Linked DNA regions of Homo sapiens. The protein of the gene in region 3 purifies or fractionates together with the protein of the main gene of each other region. This does not show direct contact. Each region holds a gene or a part of one and is shown on either strand. Other genes may lie near its edges. The genes, in order: KCTD15, WDHD1, CA10, MTERF4, PSMG1, TOR1AIP1 and NSUN4.

Region 1 (3,500 bases), on a different chromosome or scaffold from region 3:
AGAATGAAAGTGAGGATCAAAGGATGCAAGATGTGCCAAGTGCCTGGTCCAGCCCCTGCCCAAACAGGCAGAGTGTGATAAAGTGTCCAGGGAGGGGAAGCCCGCCCCCTGCCACGCAGCCCCCTTCTGGGCTAAGCAGCCTCGCACAGACTGTCCCTCAGGCGCTGATACTGGCCCCATGCCCTGGGCCACATATGCACACTATACACGCTCACACACACCCACCCCACTGGGAATGGCCAAGGTCCCATAGGTCCCCATGACTCATGCCTGAGGAAGAGGCAAGGAAGCCCAGCCCCCTGACCTACAGGCCCTAAGTCCCTTCCACCTGCTGGCCGCCTGGAGGGAGGCCTAGATTCTAACCCTGACCTCTGGGCCTGTCATGGGTCAGTGGCCCATCCTGCCTCTCCTGCCCCATGCAAGGGCTCCTCAGGGCTCTATCCTGGGCCTCTGCTCTCTCCACTCTCACTTGCTCCTGAGATTTTTATTTTATTTTCTTTAGACAGGGTCTCATTCTGTAGCCCAGACTGGAGTGCAGTGATGTGATCATAGCTCACTGCAGCCTTGAACTCCCAGGCTCAAGGGATCCTCCTGACTCAGCCTCCCGAGCAGCTGAGACTACAGGCATGAGCCATCATGCCAGGATAATAATAATAATAACAATAATAATTATTTGTAGACACAAGGTCCAGGCTGGTCTGGAATTCCTGGGATCAAATGATCCTCCTGCTTGGCCTCCCAAAGCACTGGGATTACAGGTGTGAGCCACCTCTCCTGGCCATTCTCCTGAGATTTTAAATGACAACTGCATGACAGACAACCCCATCTTTTGTCATGGCCCAGGATTTCTCCATCTGATGCCCCACCAGCTCTCCCATGCAGGGGCAGAAACCCCACTCCCACAGCCTGGTCCACCCCGGGCCTCAACTTACCAACTCAGAATTCAAGCCACAAGTCCCGGGGCACCTGCAAGAGGCCCTTTACACTACCACAGCCACGTGCTTTTGCAGCTTGCTTGCTTGTTTATTTATTTACTTATGAAAAGTAAATAAATTACTCTTAAAAAACTTTAAAAGTAAAGTTTATTTATTTACTTATGAAACCTTGCTCTGTTGCCCAGGCTGGAGTGCAGTGGTGTGACCTCAGCTCACTGCAACATCCACCTCCTGGGTTCAAGCAATTCTCCTGTCTCAGTCTCCCGAGTAGCTGGGACTACAGGTGCACACCACCACGCCCGGCTCATTTTTGTATTTTTAAGAGAGATGGGGTTTCACCATATTGGTCAGGCTGGTCTCGAACTCCTGACCTCAGGTGATCCACCTAAATCGGCCTCCCAAAGCGCTAGAATTACAGGTGTGAGCCACCGCACCCGGCCTTTTTTAATTAAAAAACAAATTTGTATAGACAGCATCTTGCTATGTTGTCCAGGCTGGTCTTGAACTCCAGGCCTCAAAGGATCCTCCCCATTCGGCCTCCCAAAGTGCTGGGATGACCAAGTGAGCCACTGTGCCTGTACTAAACAGAAGTCTGATGTGCCACCTTGCTCCATCTTCTCTATCTCCATCCTGGTCCATCCAAAGCCTCCACCCAGCCTCCCTTGGCCTGGGGAAGGGGCCTCATCCATAATTGCCTCACTGCACCCACCCCCACCCCTCTCTGCCTTCTTCCCCACCCAACAGCCAGAGAGATCTTCCCAATTTGCAGATCTGACTGCCCTTCCCCTGCACACACCCCTTCCACTGCATTCAGAGTTAAATGCCAGGCACTGGGCCACCCACCAAGGTCCTGACATCAAACAGCAGCCTCCTTTCCTGACCTTCCCCTCCCAGTCCATAAAGCTCCAGGCTTGACACCTTCTTTCCAGTTCTGGAATGCATCAAGCCATCTGCCACCCCCATCCCCTGCACCAAGGCCCTCACACCTGTTTGGCCCCGTTCTGCCTTCACCACCCAGATGAACATCATTTCTTTCAAACCCGCCCAGCCCAGGTCACATGGACTTCAAGTTCAGTATCTGTCTGCCCGCTAGACTGTTAAGTGTTGTGGGGCAGGTCCTAGTGTGTGTGTTTCACTGTTTTCAGCCTGAATTCAGAGGCTGGCACTCAGTAACTGAGCTGGATGAAAGACAAGGCCCCAGGGCTACTGGTCCTCTGGATAGAGGAAGGAATGAAGGAAGGAAGGACAGACATTTGCTAGTATTAATACATGCCAGTGTACCCCAGGCCTGAGTTTCCTTCCTCCCAGAGTCCCTGACATGTGGGAGGGGCTCAGCACTGAGGCATGACCCAGGGAACCAGGTCACCTGCCCTGACGGGCTCACCCGGAGACCTGGGGGTTAACCTTTTGTTTAAAGGGTATCTGTTTGGTCATCAGGGCTTTTCTCCCTGCAAATTGCCCAACACAGAACAGATTTTTTTTTTTTTTTGAGACAGAGTCTTGCTCCGTCATCCAGGCTGGAGTGCAGTGACGTGATCTCGGCTCACTGCAACCTCCGCCTCCACCTCCTGGGTTCAAGAGATTCTCCTGCCTCAGCTTCCCAAGTGGCTGGTATTACAGGCACCTGTCACCATGCCCGGCTAATTTTTGCATTTTTCTTTTTATACTTTATTTTTTGAAGTCTAATTACAGCCGTCCTTTTCTTTCTCTTTTTTGAGACGGAGTCTTGCTCTGTCGCCCAGGCTAGAGTGCAGTGGCGCAATCTCGGCCCACTGTAACCTCTGCCTCCTGGGTTCAAGTGGTTCTCCTGTCTCAGCCTCCCGAGTAGCTGGGATTACAGGCCTGCCACCACGCCTGGCTAATTTTTCTATTTTTAGCAGAGACGGTGTTTCACCATCTTGGCCAGGCTGGTCTCAAACTCCTGACCTGGTGATCCACCCGCCTCGGCCTCCCAAAGTGCTGGGATTACAGGCGTGAGCCACCGCTCCAGGCCTAATTTTTGCATTTTCAGTAGAGATGGGGTTTCATCAAGTTGGCCAAGTTGGTCTTGAACTCCTGACCTCAAGTGATCCACCCACCTTGGCCTCCCAAAGTGCTGGGATTACAGGCATGAACCACTGCACCCAGCCGATGGAACAGATTTATGAACCTCTAACTACTATAACGCTGGCACGCGCCCATCCTTAAACACGACAAATGTTCAGCTGGGATACGTTCTGCAGCTTGATTGTTGTTATATACCCTGATAAATAAGCTAAAAATGTGAGAAAACAAAATTAGTTTAGAAAAACTGATTTAGCCCTCGGCTTCATCGTTTAACTTTTTATGGTTACCATGACAACCAGGGGTCCACTTATTAAGTCACAGCGTCCCCTGTGTAATGCCATCACACAGGCAGTGCAGGGGGGCCACCAGCCATGGACTTACCTTAAAGTCATCCGGAAGCAGCAGCTTGGACGTCCGCAGGAAGCTCAGGACGTAGCGGAAAATCTCCCCATCCCGGTCAATGAAATAATGTTGCTTCAAACTGTCCAGGACGATGGGTTCAGTGCCATTGAAGAGGCG
Region 2 (3,500 bases), on a different chromosome or scaffold from region 3:
AGATTGGTAACAACACTAGCAGATATAATTTACAGCCAGGTGCTGTGACTCACGCTTGTAATTGCAGCACTTTGGGAGGCTGGGGAGGGAATATCACTTGAGGCCAGGATTTCAAGACCAGCCTGGGCAACAAAGCAAGATTCCATCTCTACAAAAAATAAAAAATTAGATGGGCATGGTGGCATGCATCTGTAGTCCTAGCTACCCGGAAGGCTGAGTGGGAGAACTGCTTAAGCCCAGGAGTTCAAGGTTACAGTGAGGTGTGATGATACCACTGCACTCCAGCCTAGGTGACAGAGCAAGATGCTATCTCTAAAAACAAAAATTAATTAATTAAAAACAACATATAATTAATTAAAAACAAAAACAAATAATTTATATTAGATAATAAAAAGTGTCAGTATAAAGAGGATCTATAAACTTCAGTGAACCAATATTATCAATTCATATGTTACAAAATTAAACATGATTTTAAAAAATCCATTCAACATTCAAGTCAGACCAATGAATTTTTTGATTTTATTTTGTTTTTTTCTGAGACAGGGTCTCGTTCTGTTACCCTGCCTGGAGCCCACTGTTGCAATCATGGCTCACTGCAGCCTCGACCTCTCGGGCTCAAGAGATCCTCCTACCTCAGCCTCCCAAGTAGGTGGGATTACAGGCACACGTCACCACACCTGGCTAATTTTTAAAGTTTTTTTGTAGAGAGGAGGTCTCACTATGTTGCCCTGGCTGGTCTTGAACTCCTGGCCTCAAGCAATCCTCCTGCCTGGGCCTCCCAAAGTGCTGGGATTACAGGTGAGAGCCACCATTCCCAGCCAGACCAATGAATCTTAACATAACAGAGCCGTAAGAGTTCACTGAAGTTTTCAGATTACACTTTGCAAGTAATCTTTAGGAAACGATCATCTTCTGAGTCTTGGTGCAACATCAAAGAATATCCACAATTAATTGAATGTGCTATTAAAAGATTTCTTAAAATACTTCTCCCTTTTCAAATTACATATTTATGTGAGGCCAAATTTTCTTTATACACTTCAAACAAAAACAATGTATAGCAATAGACTTAATCCAGAAAAGTAGATGAGAGAATCCAGCTATCCTCTATGATAGACATTACAAAGATTGCAATGCCACTCTTCTCACTAATTTTTTTTGTTTTTCATAAAAAAGTACTATTCATGTTTACATGAGTTTATTAATGTTATTTTTAAGTGAATAAATATTTTTAAATTTCTGAATTTTAATTTCTAATATGTAAATGACGATAGCCGTAACTCTGTATAAATAAATGCTCTCGGAAGGGTCCTCAAAATTTTTTAGAGTATAAAGGCTACTGAGACCAAAACATTTGAGGACTGCTGTTCTATAAACTCTATATGACTTTAAAAAGCACAACATAGCACTGCACATTGGCATTTTACTTGATAATGTTCAAGTGTTATTGTAGCATGTAAGTTGTTACAATAAGCACTCTATTTGAAGATTTTCAATTACAATCTCAATTTCTTCATTTTACTTGATAATGTTCAAGTGTTATTGTAGCATGTAAGTTGTTACAATAAGCACTCTATTTGAAGATTTTAAATTACAATCTCAATTTCTTTAATAGATACAATACTATTCAGGTTATCTATTACTTCTTGAGTTAGCAGTGGTACTTTGTGTCTTTCAGAAAATTCGTCTATTTCATTTAAGTTGTTAAATTTATGGGCACAAAGTTATTCATAATATTGCCATTATGCCTTTGATATTAATAGTAGCACTGCCATACAGACATATAATGTGAGTTACAGCTGTAATTTTAAATTTTCTAATATTTCTAAAGTTTAAAGAGTAAAAAGAAACAGCCATAATCTTAATAATATAGTGCATTTAAAATACATATTATCATTTCAACATGTACTCAATATAAAAAATTTCCCAAGATTTTTACATTCTTTTTTTCATATTGTCTTCAAAATCTGGTTGCACTCCATGGTGAAACCCCATCTCTACTAAAAATACAAAAATTAGCCAGGCGTGGTGGCGCATGCCTGTAATCCCAGCTACTCAGGAGGCTGAGGCACAAGAATCACTTGAATCCAGGAGGCGGAGGTTGCAGTGAGCCAAAATCACACCACCGCACTCCAGCCTGGGTGACAGAGTGAGACTCCGCCTCAAAAAAAAAAAAAAAATCCGGTTGCACTCATAACATATCTCAGTTTGAACTAACCACATTTCAAGTGCTCAACAGCTACATGTGGCTAGTGGCTACTATATATTGGATAGCACAAATCTACAGATCTATAGTGATGGCCCACCTCTCTTTCATTCTCTATGTTAGTAATTTGTGTCTTCTCTTTATTGATCAACCACGATAGATATTTATTAATTTTATTGATCTTTTCTTTTCTTTGGAGATGGAGTCTTGCTCTGTTGCCCATGCTGGCATGCAGTTGACGCGATCTCGGCTCACTGCAACCTCCACCTCCTGGGTTCAAGTGAGTTTCCTGCCTCAGTCTCCTGAGTAGCTGGGATTACAGGCACGTGCCACCACACCCAGCTAATTTTTGTATTTTTGTAGAGACAGGGTTTTACCATGTTGGCCAGGCTGGTCTTGAACTCCTGACCTCAAGTGATCTGCCCATTTCAGCCTCCCAAAGTGCTGGGATTATAGACGTGAGCCACCGTGCCCGGCCTTATTGATCTTGTCAAAGAACCAGCTTTTGGTCTCATTGACTTTCTCTATAGGTTTTCTGTTGTCAATTTTATTGAATTTTGCTCTGTATTATTTCCTTCCATTTGCTTGGGGTTTAGTTTTCTCTTTTTCTAGTCTGCCATAGCAGAAGCTTGGATTATAGATTTGAAACCTTTTTTAACAAAGTCATTTAATGCTATAAAATTTCCTCTAAGCACCACTTAGCTACATTCTACAAATTCAATAATGACTTTAATAGTGTTAATAAAAAATCTAAAATATTAATCAACAGGGTAATCACATGCACAAAGTCAAATTCTTACCAACTGAGTTTTCATCATCTTCTAGGATGTGACTTCGCTGTCTAGGACGACCTGAAGCCATCATGAGGTCTTCATCATCCTCATCATCATTTATAATCCCTTTTGAAAAAGAAGGGATCTCAACTGCATTGTCATTTAGAAAATCACCAGCATTACTCATATCATCTCCATCAAAAAGATCATTATAATCCTTTTCCACTCTGCTAGATACCTTGAACAAATTAATACAAATTATAAAGTAAAAGTGAATGATTTAGAAAAACTCAATTACTAAAAAGGTAAACTTTTAATATGCACCTATAAATTCTACCAAGCAGCAAACTCACTGAACAGATAAGAATAATTAGTAAATGTATTTATGAGAATTGTATTTATATTTACACAATAAGACCCAGTCCTTATTTCAAATGCCTTGTAGTCTGGGGATGGGATGGGAGTATAGGGACTGACATGTAAACAAATACTGTATATGCCAAAATATAAAATAAGATTTTATT
Region 3 (4,052 bases):
ATTCCCTCTACGCTCCCTCCTCTTCTTCAATAACCCCAAAGAGGTAGGTTTGAGCTTTCGCAAACCACCACTGCAGCGATGGAAGCAGACAAATCTGTTGAGATTTTGTCTTTCCCCTTTCGTTCCCAGCCCTCTTAGGCAAGCAGTTCTGAGCACAGGGTTTTCTTCAATTCCCCTGCATCCACACTGCAACCGGGTGCAAGTCTTTCCTAGGTTATAGACAGCCCGCCTCCCCACGAGACCTTCTGCGGACTGGCTGCCCCTGGCCTCGGCCTGGGTGGGTGGGTGGTGCTCGCGCCGCCCCTACTTTCCCCTGGGGCCCTGGAGAGCCGCGCGCTGGGTGTGTGTGTGTGTGCGCGCGCGGGTTTGGTGGGGAAATCTCCTTCAGTGGAAGCTGCTGAGTGTCGTTGGCGGAAAGTATCCTGGAGCCCAGCAAAAGCCTCCAAAGCACTAGAGCTTCCCTAAAGAAAAGCAGAATAAAAGAAAGACAAGAAGGGAAGCCCGTTCCTCTAAAGCCCGGGTTTCCAATAGTCCCGGATCCTCCTGGAGTTGGGCGAAGGCGCAGTTGGCAGCAGCCGCTGCTGGCACCCGGACTTGGAAAGGCGGTGTTCCCCCTTTTCGGGAGGAGGGAGGCAGGGACTTGCAGGCAAGAGTTGCACCTGGTCTAGGAACCTGCAGAGAAAAGAACTCTGGGGTAAGTAGTGTTCTGGCACTGGCACGGAAAGGGGTAAAGGGTGGGGGGCATGAGAGGGACGAAATGGAGAGGGCAGGGAATGAATTATGCAAAAAAATCTCCAATATTTCGCAGCGGAGGGAGAGCACAGCACAGCACTCCCAGGATGAGTCCTGCCTGGGTCTCCCGCGCCGAACCCGCAGCACGAAGTTCTTTTTAAGAAGAGAAACTCGAAAATCCTGGAGGGTAACAGAGGCAGCCAGGGCGGGGCGGAGTGCGGAGGCGGCTGCCAGGGACTGGGGCCGAGGCGGCGGCCAAGGTGGCCTGAAGCTGTGACACCCAGCCTCCTCCTCCTCCTCCTCATGGCCGCGCTCAGCCTCACCTCCCCGCCCGGGCCTCCTGCCTCCGCCCCCGGGTGCCGGGCTGCGGAGCTGACGCTGGGACGCCCGGCGGCGGCGAGGACGCTCACCTGGCCAAGCCTCCTTCTCCTCCTCCCCCTCCCGCCCCCACCTGTCCTCCTCCTCTCTGAGTTGGGAAGCGTAGGGATCCGTAGGCGAGGAAATAACGACCCCTGCAGTTGTATTGCGGAAAATCTCGACAGCGGCGCTAGTTGCGGGCGATGGAAGCCAGGCAACTGGGGGTTCTGGGGAGTTCAGGAAAATAGCAGAGGAGCAGGAAGGGCGCGCGCGACCTGGAGAGTCTGTGTGCCCCCACCGCGCCCCAGTCCCCGGGGCCCAGCCCTTCCCCTCGGCGCCCTGGACGCACTGCCGGAACCCGGCTGAGAGGCTGCAGGCTGCGCGCGGACCTGGGGAGCAGGGAGGGTCGGCGGAGGCTGCCGGCGGCTGGCGGTTTCGGGCAATAATCCCTGCCTCTCTTTCTCTGTGTGTCTGCTGTGTCTGCTCCTTCCCCGCCCCCCGGAAGCAGGAGAAGAACTGCCCCGGAGCGCAGCAGCCACCCTCCGACCATGCCCCGGTGAGGGGGGCGGACTTCGAGGGCAACTTGCCGCGGACTGCCTGGGCTTAGCCAGCGAGCTACGCGCTCCCGGGAGCCCGGAATTGCACGGCGCAGCCCGGCGGGGGGCTATCGTCTATGTCTTCTTGGGGCGCCAGACGAATCGGGGTCTCGTTTTTGCTGGAAGAGCCCAGTGTTGGTGGCTTCAGGTGGCTGCTGCCGCCGCCGCCGCCGCCGCCGCTGCTAGTGCGGTTTCCGCCGCTGGTGCGAAGAGAAGAGACACGCGAGCGGGGAGACCTCCAAGGCAGCGAGGCATCGGACATGTGTCAGCACATCTGGGGCGCACATCCGTCGAGCCCGAGGGGAGATTTGCCGGAACAATTCAAACTGCGATATTGATCTTGGGGGTGACTGTCCCTGGCCGGCTGTCGGGTGGGAGTGCGAGTGTGCACTCGCTCGGAAGTGTGTGCGAGTGTGTATGTGTGTGTGCCGTGTCGGGCTCCCCCCTTCCCCCCGTTTTCCCGTCGAGTGATGCACTTGGAATGAGAATCAGAGGATGGAAATAGTCTGGGAGGTGCTTTTTCTTCTTCAAGCCAATTTCATCGTCTGCATATCAGGTACGGGACGCGCCGAAGTCACTGGCTGATTTGGATTATGTTGTGATGTCTGGGGTGTATGGGGTTTTATTGTATATAGCCGCGGGGCAGAGAGAGGGGTGGCGAGACCCTTTGAGTTCTGCGGGTTTGCCGCCTTCAGAATCAAAAATCTTCTCAGCCCAAGGGTGTGTGAATGTGTGTGTTTTGCGGGGGGGGGTGGTTAGGATCTGTGTGCAGTCCTAGAAGGGTGAAGGAAAAAGTGGTGGGGGATGAGAAAGAAGAGGCAGATGGGTGTTGATTTTCAACTGCTTTCCTGGCTGAGAACTCTGGCGCCGAAATCCGAGCCTTGGCAACAACCACCCCCATCCCCTGGCTTTCAAAGTTCCCAGACTCGGTGGTTCCTGGCTGGCAAAATGGACGCGGGGCCCTGCCCGGGTATCTAACCACTTTCAAGAGACTGCGGGAGGATGCGGGACTGGAGAGTACCAGCAGGGATCAGAGATATGTCCTCCATGCCTTACCCAAACACATCAGGACTGATTGTGATGCTTTGAAACCTGCTGACACACCCTCCTCTACCCCCCCAATTTTCTTGTTAAAGCACTACAGTGTCACAAATACCACTTTCTTTACATCACGGTGTTTTTTAATTCCCAGTAGCAAGGATGTGCTGGCTCAGACCTCTCAGTCTACTTGGGCCTGTCTGTGCTTTTAAGAGCAAACGGGATTTCAGGGTGTTGAGGTGAAAGAGGTTGGGCTTGTGGACACCTGTGCCTGAGTGTGTTAGGACGAGTTCTGGTTTTTGAGCACTGTCTTTGTTGATGCAGGGAATTGGGGTTGGGAGGAAGCTGGGAGGGAAAGGGGAAAGCCCCTGGACCAGCAGTATTCCCCAGTTCAGTGGCTCCTCCCATTGAAGGCACCCACCCCATTTCCCTTCACACCTGCCACTTAAGCACCCAAGGAAAAGCCCATTTGTAGTGCTCCCTTCTGCCTGCATTCTTCTGCAGAAGTGGGGACTCGGCCAACTTCCCATGAAGTCATCAGAAGAGGAGAGCAGGATATTGCCCCTTTGAGCAGCCACATTTAAGCAGCACTGGGGTGGAGAGACATGTTTCCTGCCTCTTCCTTCAGCCCTGTCAATCCCCTCCCTTTAAGCCAGACCTGATTCTGGATAGGAGAAAACAACCCTAGTTCTGCCCTCACCCTGGACTCTGTTCCAAATCCCAGTCTGGCTTCCAATTTTCTCCTCATAGGGAAGGAATGGGACTCTTATCCGAAATCATTCTGTGTGGGGCTTGGCTACCCTATTAAGAAATTTGTCTCTGTGATACATCAGTGAGATGTGTTGTGTACCTGGCAGACAAGAAAATGTGCCCTGGGGTCACCCCAACTCCTCTAGTGGGACTTCTATTATTCCATTCTGCATCTAGGAGTGAAAATTCTCAAGTGACTTGTAAAGGTTTATATCAGTCATATGTCCAGATATGAAGTGGGTGGCATCTCACAAGGCCATATTTTACATCTTTCTCTTCTACATGTCTATTTCAAACTCTCTCTCTTGTTCCAGAATATTTGACTAGTTATAAAATAGCCTTTCCTTACTTCTCCCCAGTGTCATTAATAATTTTCAAATCAGACAAGCCATCTGAGTACCTTTAAGATTTATAAAGGGTTAACATTGATTAAGGCTCTGGATTTCCTCCAGCATCCTCTCTGTCCCCAGCCCTTACCCTGAATTTCGCCAGGCAATCACCGAGGGGAACAGGCTGAGAAAGGGTCTGATCTTAGCCTCCAAAAAAAGCATTAGTGGGATACCTGTCACAGCTATATTT
Region 4 (4,059 bases), on a different chromosome or scaffold from region 3:
CTCAAGTGATCCTCCCACTTCAGGCTCCTGAGTAGCTGGGACTACAGGTGCACGCCACTACTCCCGGCTAATTTTTTATTTTTTGTAGAGACAGGATTTTCCTATGTTGCTCAGGTTGGTCTTGAACTCCTGAGCCCAGGCAATCCCCCCCACCTCAGCCTCTCACAGTGCTGGGATTACAGGCGTGGGCCACTGCACTCTGCCAAAGCAACCAATTCTTTAGTTTCTACACGGATTAGAACCTTCCTTTTCTTTGACATAATCCTTTTGTCAAAAGACAGTTTTACATAAATTGTTTGGCACCCCACTCCATGCCTGGCGCAAAGCAGATATGTAAATGTGTGCCCATGCAAGAATCAAATCCTTTATGTCAGTCCAGAATGAAGTAGATAAAACAAGAAATGCTTATAAATTAAGGCTTTGGTGGCAGGATTTAGGCAGCTGAGAAAGCACACCTTTTTATTCTTCACAAGCATCACCTTGTGAAAGATGCCTACGCTCTTAGGTCGAGAGAGGAAATTTAAGAATGAATACACATTGGGCTAAAACTTTACTATATTTCATCCTAAGAGGGAACCAGACCTCGAAGTTGGGAAGGCTCTTGCTTATAAAGGGAAATGTGCCGTAATTCCTGTCATTTTACTTGGGTCTTTTAAAAACGGCAAATTCTCATCTTCCACTGGCTGAGAGTAAAAAGAAAGAAAAGCGGTAAAGACTTCTTTTTGTGCGTAGGTGGCCCCGGTGTTCACGCTGAATACAGATTTTTACACAATAAAATCTTAAATATCTCTACATGGAACGGAATCCATTTTTCCTGCCTCGGGAAGGATTTCTGCGCTCTCGGGTGAAGTTCCCGAAGCAAGGAACCAGTTCCCCTCTACCTGTACTCTTGAGAGGAATTCTCAGGTCATCTGAAACACAAGTATGGGCCAGGACGACCCATTCGTTCACGCGGCCCAGAGCTCTGCGAAACGGGACACGGCAGTGCAACGGGAACAACCGGACACCGAGGCCCCCGAAGGCTGAGGCCGCGGCAGAGGCGGCGGCACGGTGACGGGCGCGACTCCGGCCTTCCGGCTTTCTAAGGGGCGGCCCCGGGACACCTGAGCCCCGCGGGGCCGTGAACGCTCAGCACAGCTCCGGGCCGGAATCACGATCCACCACACCGCGCTGGCGCTGGGAACGGCGTCGGTGACGGACCGGGGGCCGGAAGTGAAGGACGGGGGAGGACCGCTGCTTCCGGCGCCGTAACTGCTGCCATCTTCTCCGCGCTATGGCTGCGTTCGGCCGTCAGGTAAGCTCGAGCTGGGCGCGCGGGCTTCTCCGGGTCGCAGGCGGGCGGGCAGCGACGCAGAGGAACCGCGGCCGCCGAGTGTTTCACGGCCAGGTCGTGGAGCCCTCCCGGAGGTCCGTGCACGCTGACCTGGTTTTGGCATCCTGGACCCGTGGCTCTGCTCAATTATTGTGGGATATAGAGTTGACATTTTTTTTTTTTGAGACAAAGTCTCGCTCTGTCTCCAGGCTGGAGTGCAATGGCGCGATCTCGGCTCACTGCAACCTCCGCCTCCCGGGTTCAAGCAATTCTACTGCTTCAGCCTCCCAAGTAGCTGGGATTACAGGCGCCCGCCACCATGCCTGGCTAATTTTTGTATTTTTAGTAGAGACGGGGTTTCACCGTGTTGGCCAGTCTGGTCTGTAACTTCTGGCCTCAGGTGATCCACCCGCCTCGAACTCCCAAAGTGCTGGGATTACAGGCGTGAGCCACCGCGCCCGGCCTGAGTTGACTGTTGAACAAGAGTTTGAACTTCACAAGGAAGATAACATGTACTTTTCATTAAGAGGAAGCGGAATCAGCATAGAGGTCTTTAGGCTTGAGCCCAGTTCCACGGGCCGCGCCCGCTGACCCCAGCGACTGCCAGGTGTTCCTGGCGGAGGGAGCATCTGGACAGGGGAGGCTGGAGAGCAGCCAGAGCTTGGGCTTGGCAGGGTGGCCCCAGGGCGACAATCGATGACGCTGGAGAAGGGGTTGGGACCGATGTGAAGGTTTTAGAGCAGGGGTTCCCCAACCCCCGGTACCGTCCCTTGCCTATTAGGAACCAGGCTGCACAGCAGGAGGTGAGCGGCAAGTGAGCCAGCCAGACTGTATTTACAGCCGCTCCCTTCGCTGGCATTACCGCCTGAGCTCCGCCTCCTGTCAGACCAGCCGCCTTAGATTCTCACTGGAGCGCGAACCCTATTGTGAACTGCGCCTTTGAGGGGTCCAGGTTGCGCTCCTTATGAGAATCTGATGCCCGATGATCTGTCACTGTTTCCCATCAACCCCAGATGGCACCTCCTGGTTGTAGGAAAACAAGCTCAGGGCTCCCAGTGATTCTACATTATGGTGAGTTGTATAATTATTTCATCTTATATTACAACGTGAAAATAACAGAAATAAAGTGCACAACAAATGTAATATGCTTGAATCATCCTGAAACCCCTCACCAGTCTGTGGAAAAATTGTCTTCCATGAAGCCAGTCCCTGGTGCCAAAAACGTTGAAGACTGCTGGCTTAGAGTGCCTGGATGATTTGTGCATAGTTTGTTAAGCACCAGCCTGAACCACTGAAGACTTTTGAGGTCAACTGGAATTGTGTATGCAAGTTGACTAATTACTGTGACCCTTGAACAACACAGGGGTTAGGGGCACCAGACCGCCCCCACACCAGTTGAAAATCAGTGTATAACGTTTGACTCCTCCAAAACTCAACTACTAATAGCCTACTCATGACTGGAAGCCTTACCGACAACATAAACAGTTAACACATATCTTGTATATATATATATTGCATTCTGTATTCTTAAAGTAAGCTAGAGAAAAGAAAACGTTATTCAGAAAATCATAAGGGCAAAACCCCGTCTCTACAAAAAATACAAAAATTAGCAGGGTGTAGTGTGCACCTGTAGTCCCAGCTACTCAGAAGGCTGAGGTGGGAGGATTACCTCAGCCTGGGGAAGTCAAGGCTGCAGTGAGCCATGATTGCACCACTGCACTCCAGCCTGGGCAACAGAGTGAGACCCCCGTCTCAAAAAACAAAAAGAAAATCCTAAGAGAAAATGTATTTACTATTCATTAAGAGGAAGTAGATCCTCATAAGGTCTTTAGGCTGAAGAGGAGGTGAAGGAGAGTTTGGTCTTGGTGTCTCAAGGGTGGCAGAGGCGGAAGAAAATCCACATATAAGTGGATCCAAGCAGTTCAAACCCTTGTTGTTCAAGGGCCAACTCTGTATCCCACAAGATTCTTCTCGTGGAATGAATTTAAGAACATGAATCTGGAAAGTAGTCTGAGGTCCAGACTTTTCTGGCACACATGACCAGGTGGCCTAGAAATAGTTTTTCCCTCTTCCTCCATGTCCCTGCTCCCATCCTTAAAGCTGCAAAAGCTAACAATATTGTACCTGCTTGACTCCCATCTCTGTGGCCTTGAAATACCCTGTTCTTTGTGAGCTTCCTTCTCTGTAGGCTTAAGTTCAGATAGGATTTTGCAGATTGCTTATAAAAATTGTATGTTTGTGTGGAACCAAGGCAGTAAGTACTCTGGCTCAGAAGTCTTATGGTGTCCATTACACTGGAATAGTGAGGAATTAATTGTCTTTTGGTCCTGTGTCTTACAGGTCCTTGATTGGCACCGCCTGATCCCCCTCACCTGGGCCTGTATGGCTAGGCAGACTCCTCATCTTGGAGAACAGAGAAGGACGACAGCTTCTTTGTTGCGCAAACTGACTACAGCCTCCAATGGAGGGGTCATTGAGGAGTTATCTTGTGTTAGATCCAATAACTATGTGCAGGAACCAGAGTGCAGGAGGAATCTTGTTCAGTGCCTCCTTGAGAAGCAGGGGACTCCTGTGGTACAAGGGTCCTTGGAGCTAGAGAGGGTCATGAGTTCCCTCCTGGACATGGGTTTCAGCAATGCCCATATTAATGAATTGCTCAGTGTACGGCGAGGTGCCAGTCTTCAACAGTTGCTGGACATCATTTCAGAATTTATTCTCTTGGGTCTGAATCCAGAGCCTGTGTGTGT
Region 5 (4,264 bases), on a different chromosome or scaffold from region 3:
AAGAAGGCAGGTTTGTTGACAGACTTTCTACCACATGCTCACGGGGTAATACTCTTCTGAAAAACTTTAGGCCAGCAGAACTTTATATAAATGAGTCCATAGTTACTTGCCATCATGTACTTACTATGTTCTACAACCACTAGGGGTACCTTACAGAGGAAGGGATCTTAACTGGGTTTCCTGAATGTTCTCATCACAACCTGTGAACACCCTAAAAATATAAAGGTCTATGTGTGTATTTGTAAATGTACATTGTCCTAGCTGCACTCTACACTGTTTTTACTTTAATCCACCAAGAGAATTAATACATGCAAGGACCTTAAAACTTAAGTACTTAAACATGTTGATAATTATTACTGTCTTTAGAGTTTTGTGTTCTCAAAGGAGTCTATTAACTCAAAAACATTAACATAAACCCGGATACCTCAACACACTAGAAACAGCTCCTTGAGTTTTAAGTTCCTGAAGCTAAAAACATTTTCTTTAAAGCTTTTCTCTGAGTTGGGGTCTTGCTTTGTTACCCAAGCTGGAGCACGATCAGTGGGAGGATCGTGGCTCACTGCAGCCTCAAAATCCTGGGCTCAAGCAATCCTCCCATCTCAGGCTCCTGAGTAGCCAGGACTACAGGCAAGCACCACCATGCCTGGCTTCATTTTTTTATTTTTTGTAGAGATACGGTCTCACTATGTTGCCCAGGCTGGTCTCAAATCCTGGCCTCAAGTGATCCTCCCGCCTCGGCCTCCCAAAGAGCTGGGGTTACAGATGTGAGCCACTGCACCCAGCCTAAATCTGATTTTTTCAGTTTATTAAAAAGATAGTGCAGACCAGGTGCTGTGGCTCACACCTGTAATCCCAGCTCTTTGGGAAGCTGAGGCAGGAGGATCACTTGAGGACAGGAGTGCAAGACCAGCCTGGGCAACACAGCAAGAAACCATCTCTACCAAAAACAAAACAAAAAAAAATGATGCAACAGGAACAGGAGAGAGATTTTACTCAGAAATACAATCACTCTACTGTGGCTTTTTAAAGTACTAAACATTTTAAATCTTTTATGATGGAAGAAAATAAGTATATTTCATTCTTTCAACAAAATGACTAAGTCTTCTGCATTTTCACTTACCTACTGCATTATTTCCTATAGCAATTATAAACTTGGAGCACGGATATTTTTCTAGCAAAGAAACTTCCAAAGATGTTTTTGTTTGTCTTCGAAGGAGCCGCACTTCCCTAACACAAGAAACAAGATGAAACTAAAGCAACTTCAATATAAACAGTATCATGGCAAAAGGGCACTATATGTATGATTTACAATAAATAAAATGCACGTTAGTTTTATAAAGAATATAACTAATATCCTCAGAAAACGATGGACTCGGACAATGATAACCAACAGATAAAACTATTGCATACGTGTTTACGGAGAACTCTAAAATAGTGATCAGGCTGTCCACCTGACCCAAGAACCAATCTTAGCATCCCTAAAAGTGAGACAGCTGGGGATAGCCTGCAATAAGAAACAGAAAGCACCACTTAGTAGAAGCATTCTTGCCGACAAAACTTTGAATGAGAATCTGACCAAGCCTCCAAATGAACATTCATTTTACAGGACATGCAGGTGATACAAACGTTAAGTGACACCACAACGAAGCTATCAGACAAATTCAGAGTGTGGGGGCACTGGACAAGACAATCAGTCCTGTCTCTTAGGAGGGGTAAGAGGAGGTTGCTCTAAATGAAGTGACACGTCTAAATGTAACCTGTGGACCCTGTTAGGATTCTCATTCACGCAGACCACTGTAAAATGTCATGTTTGAAAAAACTAGGTAAACGTGAGTGAGCATGGACTACAAAATGATACTGGAAAATTAGTATTAGTGTTGTTAGGGGTGATAATAGCATATGTAAGAAAATCCCTAAAACGTTTGAGATGTATTCTGAAAAATGTAGAGGTGAAAGGCCATGATGACTGGAATTCGCTTAGGAGTGGCGGGAGAGAAAATAAACGTGGCAAAATCTTCCTGTTGAATTTACCCGGTTGTGTAGGGGTCAGGGCTCACTTGACTATTTTCTCCCACTTTTTTGTGTTTGGAAACAATTTTTTTAAAGCGTGTTCATCGGCTACTGACACATCATGCTAATTGAAGTGTTGGGTGCAGGTTTAAAAAGTTTCGAGGGAATTGGTGTGTCCGTGAACAATCCACGACAAACGTGGTGGGGCCCGCGGGAGCGCTGCGGCCCAAGACAGTGTGACAAGCGGGAAGATCACGAGTCCGCAAGACACCAAGCCTCCAGAAATGCTCCAGAAACGCTCCAGAAAGCCTTTAAAGAACGGATTTGAACCCAGCCCTCCCACAGCGGCTTCACCCTGGACTCCACGAAACGCCAGCAGATCCACGCGAGAACCACACACACCTGGGGCTGGCGCCGCTGGACGCCGCGGCTTCACGGAGACCCAGGGCCCAAGCAGAGCCAAGGAGCGGCGGCAACCGCGGGGGCCACTCGGAAGACCGCGGAGCCCCGGCCTTAGGCGCCGTCGCGGCTGCCAGGCCCGCGCACCTTCCAGCTGCGGTGAGCGCGCTGCCCTTATCCCGGTGCCTCACCTCTTCCGCGCCAGCTGCAGACGCACCTCCCTGTCCTCGGGCGTCTCCCTCCGCCCCTCCTCCTCCTCCTCTTCGTCCTCAGTCCCAGCTCGGCACGGCGCCTTCACCACCTCTCCGAAGAACGTGGCCGCCATAGCCGCCCCGTGACCGGCTGGACACAACTGCAGCGCCGCGGGACCGCACGCCGGCTTGCGCGAGACCACGCTCCCTCACCGCGCGGGCAATAAGTCCCGCCCCGCACAGGCCACGCCCTCCGCGCACAGCCCAAGCTCGCGGCCACACCCCCACCGCGCGGGCGCTACGTCCCGCCCCGCACAGGGCTCGCTCCCAGGCACACCCTGAGCTCGCGGCCACGCCCTCTACACCGCCCGCCCGCGCTGTCATGCCCTGGGCCAGCAGTCCCCGCAGCTTTTTTGTTTTTAAATTACAGATTGGGGGAGGGGGTCTCGCTATGTTGCCCAGACTGGTCTCGAACTCCAGGACTCTAGCGATCGTCCTCCTTAGACCTCCCAAAGTGCTTGGATTACAGGCCTCAGCCACCGCGTCCGGCCCCCAAAGGCTTTCATTCGCAGCTTGAGCCCTGCGGGCGCCAGGAGGTGGGAGGACTGCGGGCTAGAGGGGCAGGGGGCGAGAGGAGGGCGGGGCCTCCGTTCGTGGCGGTAGCGGAACCAGGGGTGCAGGGGCGGAGCCAGCGCCGCTGGCCGTGGCGTCCGGGAGCTGTGGGGCCGTCCCCTCATCGTCCGTTTCCATTTTCCTTCTGCGTTAGGAGAGACTGGGGTAGCATTAGTGTACTGAGCACCCGCTCCAAATTTCGACTGCCCAGGTAGGTGGCGGCGCGGTGGTACTGAGGGCCCCCGTAGCCAGGCGCGCCCTCAGACAGCGGGCACGGGCGGACGCAAGGGCAGCAAGAAATACAGCGCTTCGTGGTGGTATAAAAACGAGACCTTTACTCTGGCAATAGGAATTCACATTTCAAAAGCTGATGATTGTCAAGGCGATTTAAAAAACATTTTTATGAGTGTAAAAAATAGTGTTTTAAAGTTGGCCATTTTCTAATACAAAATGTTTCTTTTTAAATAGCCTTTAATAAGCAGAATGTGTGATTGTTCTTTAATTGGTTCTCTTTAAAATGTGCTGGAAGACAAAGTTCGAGGAGCACTGTTTCAAGCAAGAGAAAAAGGGGACATAATTTAAATGAAAATGAAAATATGCAGTAATGCAATGAAAAAACCGTTTCCTAGATTTAGTTGTACCGAAATACATGACATCGCCTGCATTTTGTGACTTTGTCAGTAGTCACGAAGGTAAGTACTACTTTGGGGTCAGAGAGAGCCTGTTGAGATAAAATCTCAAAGCTGTTAGAAACATTTTAAGATGTGGAAAGATAATCAACAAAATCATTTACATAAAATTAGTACTTAGCAGATGTACACATCTGCAAAAATAAAGTGAGTTTGGAAGCAAAATTTGAACATTTAGCAATAAAATTAAGACGAAATTGCTAGCCAGTAAGAGCTTAGGAAACTGGATATCCTTAGTGAGATAGAATAAACAAGATCACCACAATGATGTTTTAAAACATTAGGACTCCTGGGTTAACTGGTCTATTATGATGATGGAACTGCAGAATAAAAAGGTTGTTTGGGCACCACTTGTCTTAGTCC
Region 6 (3,500 bases), on a different chromosome or scaffold from region 3:
ATATGAATTAATTTAACCCCCACAACAATCCAGATGACAAGACTGAGGAACACAGAAGTTAAATAACTCTCTAAAGGCAAACAGCTAAAAAGTGAAGGAATGGAACCCAGAAATTCTAGCTAGACACTACCAGCGTGTTACAAATCTCCATTTCTGTATCAAGAATTCATAGGAAAAATGAGGAAGGGTGGGAAACACACAGAATACCAAATGCCCAACAACCAGCGTATAATGCCAGGCACGGTGGCCCACACCTATAATCTCAGCACTTTGGGAGGCTGAGGCAGGAGAATTGCTTAAGCCTGGGAGGTCGAGGCTGCAGTGAGCCATGATCGCATCACTGCACTCAAACCTGGGTGACAGAGAGAGATCCTGTCTCAAAAAAATAAAAACAAAAACCAAACCAGCTTATGTACTTATTTTTAAAGTGAAATGATGAGGTAAAGAATAGGAATTACAGGTCAGGCGTCGTGGCTCAGGCCTGTAATCTCAGCACTTTGGGAGGCAGAGGCAGGTGGATCACCTGAGGTCAGGAGTTTAAGACCAGCCTGGCCAACATGGTGAAATCTCATCTCTATTAAAAATACAAAAATTAGCCAGATGTGGTGGTGCGCACCTGTAATCCCACCTGCTTGGGGGGCTGAGGCAGGAGAATCACTTGAACCCAGGAGGCAGAGGCTGCAGTGAGCCGACATTGCGCCACTGCACTCCAGCATGGGTGACAGAGTGAGACTCTGCCTTAAAAAAAAAAAAAAAAAAAAAAAAGAATTGGAATTACAGAAATTTTAAGGAGGTGGTGAAGGGAAAGTGCAGGACTAAAGTATAAAATTACTCATTATTTACAGAGTTTACAAATTTGTTTAGCATTATCTTTTTTGGGGGGGAGGGTCTTGTTCAACATTATCTTAAGCCTCAAACTGGTATTTTTCTCTCTTTAGTCAACTCTTTCATTGAATAAACTTAAATTCACATAAACAATCAGAACTTGTTAATTAATAATTTGGTTTGAATTTGAAAATCCAGAGATAAAGCTAGTTATATAATTAAATGAAAACTTCCTAAAAGTAACACTCCAGATAGTGTTGTCAGTCCCAATGGCAATGTGATTAGTTTCTCTATAAAATTCAAAAAACAACAAGTAACTCTTCTTTTGAGCACAAAAATATCTTATTTTCCACAAATATCAAAAAAAGCTAAAAGTGATTTGTTTAGATATCATGACATAGTATTAATCGGATGAACACGAAATCAGTAATTTTAATAAATATTTAAAGAAAAATTCACGACTTTTTATAAAGTATTAATAAAAATTTGAAAGTTTTTTTTAAAAAGCAAATTCATGGAATACCAAAGATAGTTCTATGAGAAGAGTCATATGTATATAAAGCAATATTACCTCCAGATTCATCAGAATCCCTGGATCTGGCCTTAACAGTAGTGACACTGCTGTGAGAGCTGTCTTGATCATCTTCTTCAGTTTCTCCTAAAGAGAAGTAAACAATATACTAATATAGTCTATTTTAATGCTCAGAAGATCTGAATTTAAAAAAACCAAGCAAATAATTTAACATTAAAAGAAGCCTTTTAAGTTATCAGATATAGAACTACTGTTTGTTTATCATGCTTATTATTTTGAATCCCAAAGTTCCAAAGGAACTAAAATTTATCTCAATTTGTGTCCTCTGGGGCACATAATACTTTCCTAAACAAATATTCAGAGTAATATCTAAAAAACTATAAGGCTTTAATGTAGAGTCAAAAATGAACAGATGAGCGTTAAACAGTGGAAAAAGTTTATGGGGAGGAAAACTACATATAATTAGTGTGTAGTTAAATTCAGATGTGTATTTGTGTGTGTGTGTTGGTGGTAGAGGGGTAGTGTACACACACCTGCACACAAACATTCTATTATGCAGGTGACCACCCTCAGATTATGCTGAGCTTCAACAAAAACTAAATTTTATTCCTGTACTTTTCAAACATAAACTGGTTATGAGAATTTGGAAAACTGATTACTTTAATACCATAATAGAAAATATTATCTTTGCTTAAAATGAACCCAAATAGACAAAAGATGCTTAAAATGTAAGGCTGTCATCACTCATTCTATCTGTCCTATTATTTCTGCCCAGTTAACAGTTCAGATAAGCATGAATTTTTTTTCTTGAAGAAAAACACATTATTTTCTGTTCTAACTTCTTTTTGTTTTTTTTTTTTTTAAGAGATGGGCTCTCACTAGGTTGCCCAGGCTGGAGTGCAGTGGCCATTCACAGTTGCAATCCCACTACTGATCAGCACGGGAGTTTTGACCTGGTCCGTTTCTGAACTGAATGGATTCACCCCTCTTTAGGCAACATGGTGGTCCCCCGCTCCCGGGAGGTCACCATATTGAAGCCAAACTTAGTGCAGACACCTGATCGGCATAGTGCACTACAGACAGCCCAGAACTCCTGGACTTAAGTGATCTTCCTGCCTCAGCCTCCCGAGTAGCTGAGACTACAGGCATGTGCCACAGTCCCCGGCTCTGTTCCCACTTCTTAAATATCTATCAGAATGGCTTCTAATGTAAAGAAAAAGACTTAAAGTATATATTATATGATATTTACAAGTAAAATACCTTCTTCAGAGAAATTGACCTTCTGTTGGACACTGGTGGCTTCTAGAAGAAAAAAGCATACATCAAATATTAAACATATAACATCAAAAGTTAAAGCTTAGGAATAAACAAAAGCTTAGGAAAAAAGTTAAAGCTTAGGAATAAATAAAAGAGCATCTCGTTTAGGAAAATGAACATGAGGACACATTAAATAAATTCTTTTTCTGTTAAATCACTAAGAATTGGCCGGGTGCAGTGGCTCACGCCTATAATCCCGGCACTTTGGGAGGCCGAGGTGGGTGGATCACTTGAGGTCAGGAGTTTGAGACCAGCCTGGTCAACATGGTGAAACCCTGTCTCCACTAAAAATACAAAAATCAGCCAGGAGTGGTGGTGTGTGCCTGTAATCCCAGCTACTCGGGAGGCTGAGGCAGGAGAATAGTTTGAACCTGGGAAGCAGAGGTTGCAGTGAGCCGAGATCGCGCCACTGTATACCAGCCTGGGCGACAGAGCAAGACTCTGTCTCAAACAGAAAAAGGAAATGAAGTGTTTAATTTTCCTTCAGTCACAGGTCTATTTTTACTCTAAAATGTAACCTTTGTATGCAAAAAAAACATTAAATTCTACATTGACAAATATTCTAGTGTGTATAGGTTTGCTATATTCTCATTCTCTTATTTGCCAAATCCCCTATACTCCCTTTAAAAACCAACTACACTAACTGGACTGATAACCCAGTTCTTTCGAGCATTGGTGTATCCAAAGAGGAAGAAAGGTAAAGAAACTTCTAGTTCTGGCGGGTCCATGTATGTCACTGTTTTCCAGTGCAAAAGAGAATTTGAACAAAAATAAACAAGCAAAACACATCAAATAAACTTGGAACATAGTATTTTTACATGGGCTA
Region 7 (3,500 bases), on a different chromosome or scaffold from region 3:
TATGCAGCATATAAGAGATACACCTAAAAGGAAATGACCTAAATATAAAGGGATGAGCAAAGGTATAACTGCAATCCTTTAAAAAAAAAAGCTGTAGGAGTTTCCCCAACCCAAAAAGGAGGAAATGTCTACAGACTCTTTCCTTACTCCTTCTCAGTGTCCTCAGTCATGGTCAGAACTTTTAGGAAGATGGCTGCAAGGTATACTTAGGACCGCTGGACTCCTGAGCCCCTAATGCAGAGAAACAGCAGAGCTATGTAATTTCAAGGGGACTATAAATCGATGGCAATATATCTGAATATCTTGGTTCTAATATATTTCTAATATTGTTTCAGTAGTGTTAACTGTGGAAAATGTTCATGTTGAGAGGCCAAGGCGGGCGGATGGCTTTAGCCCAGGATTTCGAGACCAGCCTGGGCAATATGACAAAACCCCGTCTCCACAAAAAATACCAAAAAAATTAGCTGGACATGCTGGCACATGCCTGTACTCCCAGCTACTTGGGAGGATGAGGCGGGAGAATTGCTTGAGCCCAGGAAGCAGAGGTTGCAGTGAGCCGAGATTGTGCCATTGCACTCCAGCCTGGGCGATGGGAGTGAAACCCTGTCTCAAAAATAAAAAAATATGTTGATCTCACTCAGTCACAGAAGAAAGAAAAGGAAGTTGTACTGTTGCACTACACTTAGGAAACATTTAGGGAGGGTAGTCAAACCACTCAACATCAGATATGGCACATGCATCTTCACATCAGGCACTGGCATGGATGTCAGTCATAAATAACCAGTCGTGCCAGGATAGTGCTCCCACTGAATCTCAGCCCTGGGCAAGTGTCTAACAAATATTATTTGTATTAATATCAATTTGTATAATATTGTATTATAAGGGAAGATAGAAACATGTTCAAATAAACATTGTATTATTTGAAATAAACTTGAGCTCACATAAAAAAGAAAGTTGTGACATGGGGGGGTTAGTGTCTTCCATGAACATGCAGAGCTCTGAGGTCCTGTCCCTTCTCCAGCTGATGGACAAGTGGAGCGGGAGAAGGATGGAGTTACCAAGAGTATGTAGAGCCCTGAAGTAGTATTCTTCTTCTTCTTCTTCTTTTTTTTTTTTGAGACGGAATCTCGCTGTCTCCCAGGCTGGAGTGCAGTGGCGCGATCTCGGCTCACTGCAGGCTCTGCCCCACAGGGTTTACGCCATTCTCCTGCCTCAGCCTCCCGAGTAGCTGGGATTCCAGGCGCCCGCCATCTCACCCGGCTAATTTTTTGTATTTTTAGTAGAGACGGGGTTTCACCGTGTTAGCCAGGATGGTCTCCATCTCCTGACCTCGTGATCCGCCCGCCTTGGCCTCCCAAAGTGCTGGGAATACAGGCGTGAGCCACCGCGCCCAGCCTTGAAGTAGCATTCTTCTTTGCATCTAAAGTGCTTAACACGGCTGGGCACGGTGGCTCACACCTGTAATCCTAATGCTTTGGGGGGCTGAGGCAGGAGGATCACTTGAGCTCAGGAATTCGAGACCAGCTTGGACAACATAGTGAGACCTCATCTCTACAAAAAGTTAAAAAATTAGCCAGGCATGGTGCACATGCCTGTAGTCTCAACTACTTGGGAGGCTGAGGTAGGAGGATCACTTAAGCCCAGAAAGTCAAGACTGCAGTGAGCCATGATTGCGCCACTGCATTCCAGCCTGGGCAACAGAGCAAGACCTTGTCTCAAATAAATAAATAAAAGTGCTTAACACTTGCCTACCACAGAGTATATTGTACACAACTAGTTTTTTTTTTTTTTTGAGACAAAGTCTCACTCTTGTTCCCCAGGCTGGAATGCAATGGCGCGATCTCAGCTCACTGCAACCTCTGCCTCCCGGGTTCAAGCAATTCTCCTGCCTCAGCCTCCCAAGTAGCTGGGATTACAGGTGCCTGCCACCACACCCGGCTAATTTTGTATTTTTAGTAGAGACGGGGTTTCACCACGTTGGCCAGGCTGGTCTCAAACTCCTGACCTCAGGTGATCCACCCACCTTGGCCTCCCAAAGTGCTGGGATTACAGTCGTTAGCCACCGTGCCCGGCCACAACTAGTTTTTCAACAAACAAGTTAACAAAGACATCTTCAAACATTAAAGCTGTCAAGTGAAATAGCAGGTCACTCATTCTATATTGTTCTAAAATAAGTAGCTAGGATCAATGAATGGAAATAATAATAATAATGGTAAGGATTGTGATGATTATACTACTACTGAATGTTTTCTATATTCCAGACATTGTGCCAAATGCATTCTTATTTAATTTTCACCTACGGGATAGGCACTATACTATTATCCTCATTTTACAGATGAAGAAGCTGAAGCTTAACTGAAAGTTAAGTAACTCACCGAAACTTCTCTGGCTGATAAGTAATGGAACCAGGACTAATCCAAGCAGTCTGACTCCAGAATCCTTGCCCTAACCCATATACCATGCTATCTACAGATTGCAGTAAGAGGCAGAACTTCCTAACATTGTAAGTGTTCAACAACAGAATCTCAGTGTGCACCCATCAACGGATGTGTTTAAGCATAGGCTGAATAATGATAATGGGTCCTGCTTGCCTAATCTTCACCGCCAGGTACTATACTAAGTGCTTTCCCTGGATACTCTCACTGAATCCTCACAATAATCCTAAGTGGTAGGATTACCCTGTTTCACAAACGAAGAGGTTGAAGTTCAGCAAGATCAACAGTTTGCCTAAGGTTAGTAAGTAGCACCCCTGTAATGTAGAAACTGGTTAGGCTGACAGGAGAGGTCATGCTCTCTCCATCATGTTCCACTGCTCTCATATCAAGAAAAATGAATAGGCCGGGCGCAGTGGCTCACGCCTATAATCCCAGCACTTTGGGAGGCTGAGGCTAATGGATCACTTGAGGTCAGGTGTTCGAGACCAGTCTGACCAACATGGTGAAACCCCGTCTCTACTAAAAAAATACAAAATTAGTCAGGCGTGGTGGCACACACCTGTAATCCCAGCTGCCTGGGAGGCTGAGGCAAGAGAATCGAACTTTGAACCCAGGCTTGAACCCAGGAGGCGGAGGCTGCAGTGAGCCAAGATTGCGCCACTGCACTCCAGCCTGGGCAACAAGAGCAAAACTGTCTCAAAAAAAAAAAAGAAAAAAATGAGTAGGGGATTCCTACACAGGCAGAAAGCAAGTCTCAAGCCTATCTAAGATTCCATAAGCCTTGGTCTTTCTTTCAGTTTCTTAGAGTGGTTGAGGCAGAATGGTGAGAACTAGACAGATTAGGTAAATCAGGTGACAACACAGAGACAACAGCTATATATTTTATATATTTTTAGAAATATGTGTTCTAAACAAATATTTTTAGAGTATGCCATTTAAAATAAAATAAATAACTTAAAAACATGAAGAGACTGGCCCAGCACAGTGGCTCACACCTATAATCCCAGCACTTTGGGAGGACAAGGTGGGAGGACTGCTCAAGCCCAGGAGTTCGAGGCCAGCCTG

What was found.
Region 1: the proteins of CA10 (region 3) and KCTD15 purify together in Homo sapiens (affinity purification with mass spectrometry; 3 studies listed by BioGRID and IntAct, with this or other methods). This does not show direct contact.
Region 2: the proteins of CA10 (region 3) and WDHD1 purify together in Homo sapiens (affinity purification with mass spectrometry; 4 studies listed by BioGRID and IntAct, with this or other methods). This does not show direct contact.
Region 4: the proteins of CA10 (region 3) and MTERF4 purify together in Homo sapiens (affinity purification with mass spectrometry; 4 studies listed by BioGRID and IntAct, with this or other methods). This does not show direct contact.
Region 5: the proteins of CA10 (region 3) and PSMG1 purify together in Homo sapiens (affinity purification with mass spectrometry; 4 studies listed by BioGRID and IntAct, with this or other methods). This does not show direct contact.
Region 6: the proteins of CA10 (region 3) and TOR1AIP1 purify together in Homo sapiens (affinity purification with mass spectrometry; 4 studies listed by BioGRID and IntAct, with this or other methods). This does not show direct contact.
Region 7: the proteins of CA10 (region 3) and NSUN4 purify together in Homo sapiens (affinity purification with mass spectrometry; 4 studies listed by BioGRID and IntAct, with this or other methods). This does not show direct contact.

Annotation. Positions count from the first base shown.
Region 1 is NC_000019.10:33,806,870-33,810,369, reverse strand, and holds part of KCTD15 (BTB/POZ domain-containing protein KCTD15), read right to left. Parts: coding exon 3,363-3,500; intron 1-3,362. UniProt on the Homo sapiens protein: During embryonic development, it is involved in neural crest formation. Inhibits AP2 transcriptional activity by interaction with its activation domain.
Region 2 is NC_000014.9:54,992,600-54,996,099, forward strand, and holds part of WDHD1 (WD repeat and HMG-box DNA-binding protein 1), read right to left. Parts: intron 3,215-3,500; coding exon 3,004-3,214; intron 1-3,003. UniProt on the Homo sapiens protein: Core replisome component that acts as a replication initiation factor. Binds directly to the CMG complex and functions as a hub to recruit additional proteins to the replication fork.
Region 3 is NC_000017.11:52,155,915-52,159,966, reverse strand, and holds the start of CA10 (carbonic anhydrase-related protein 10 precursor), read left to right. Parts: upstream 1-1,252; 5' UTR 1,253-2,180; coding exon 2,181-2,241; intron 2,242-4,052. UniProt on the Homo sapiens protein: Does not have a catalytic activity.
Region 4 is NC_000002.12:241,099,488-241,103,546, reverse strand, and holds the start of MTERF4 (transcription termination factor 4, mitochondrial), read left to right. Parts: upstream 1-1,259; 5' UTR 1,260-1,273; coding exon 1,274-1,294; intron 1,295-3,652; coding exon 3,653-4,059. UniProt on the Homo sapiens protein: Regulator of mitochondrial ribosome biogenesis and translation. Binds to mitochondrial ribosomal RNAs 16S, 12S and 7S and targets NSUN4 RNA methyltransferase to the mitochondrial large ribosomal subunit (39S).
Region 5 is NC_000021.9:39,180,652-39,184,915, forward strand, and holds the start of PSMG1 (proteasome assembly chaperone 1), read right to left. Parts: upstream 2,801-4,264; 5' UTR 2,735-2,800; coding exon 2,601-2,734; exon of another isoform or gene 2,413-2,600; intron 1,251-2,412; exon of another isoform or gene 1,228-1,250; coding exon 1,121-1,227; intron 1-1,120. UniProt on the Homo sapiens protein: Chaperone protein which promotes assembly of the 20S proteasome as part of a heterodimer with PSMG2.
Region 6 is NC_000001.11:179,899,285-179,902,784, reverse strand, and holds part of TOR1AIP1 (torsin-1A-interacting protein 1), read right to left. Parts: intron 2,660-3,500; coding exon 2,618-2,659; intron 2,524-2,617; exon of another isoform or gene 2,221-2,523; intron 1,484-2,220; coding exon 1,397-1,483; intron 1-1,396. UniProt on the Homo sapiens protein: Required for nuclear membrane integrity. Induces TOR1A and TOR1B ATPase activity and is required for their location on the nuclear membrane. Binds to A- and B-type lamins. Possible role in membrane attachment and assembly of the nuclear lamina.
Region 7 is NC_000001.11:46,354,307-46,357,806, reverse strand, and holds part of NSUN4 (5-cytosine rRNA methyltransferase NSUN4), read right to left. Parts: intron 232-3,500; exon of another isoform or gene 148-231; intron 1-147. UniProt on the Homo sapiens protein: Mitochondrial RNA cytosine C(5)-methyltransferase that methylates cytosine to 5-methylcytosine (m5C) in various RNAs, such as rRNAs, mRNAs and some long non-coding RNAs (lncRNAs).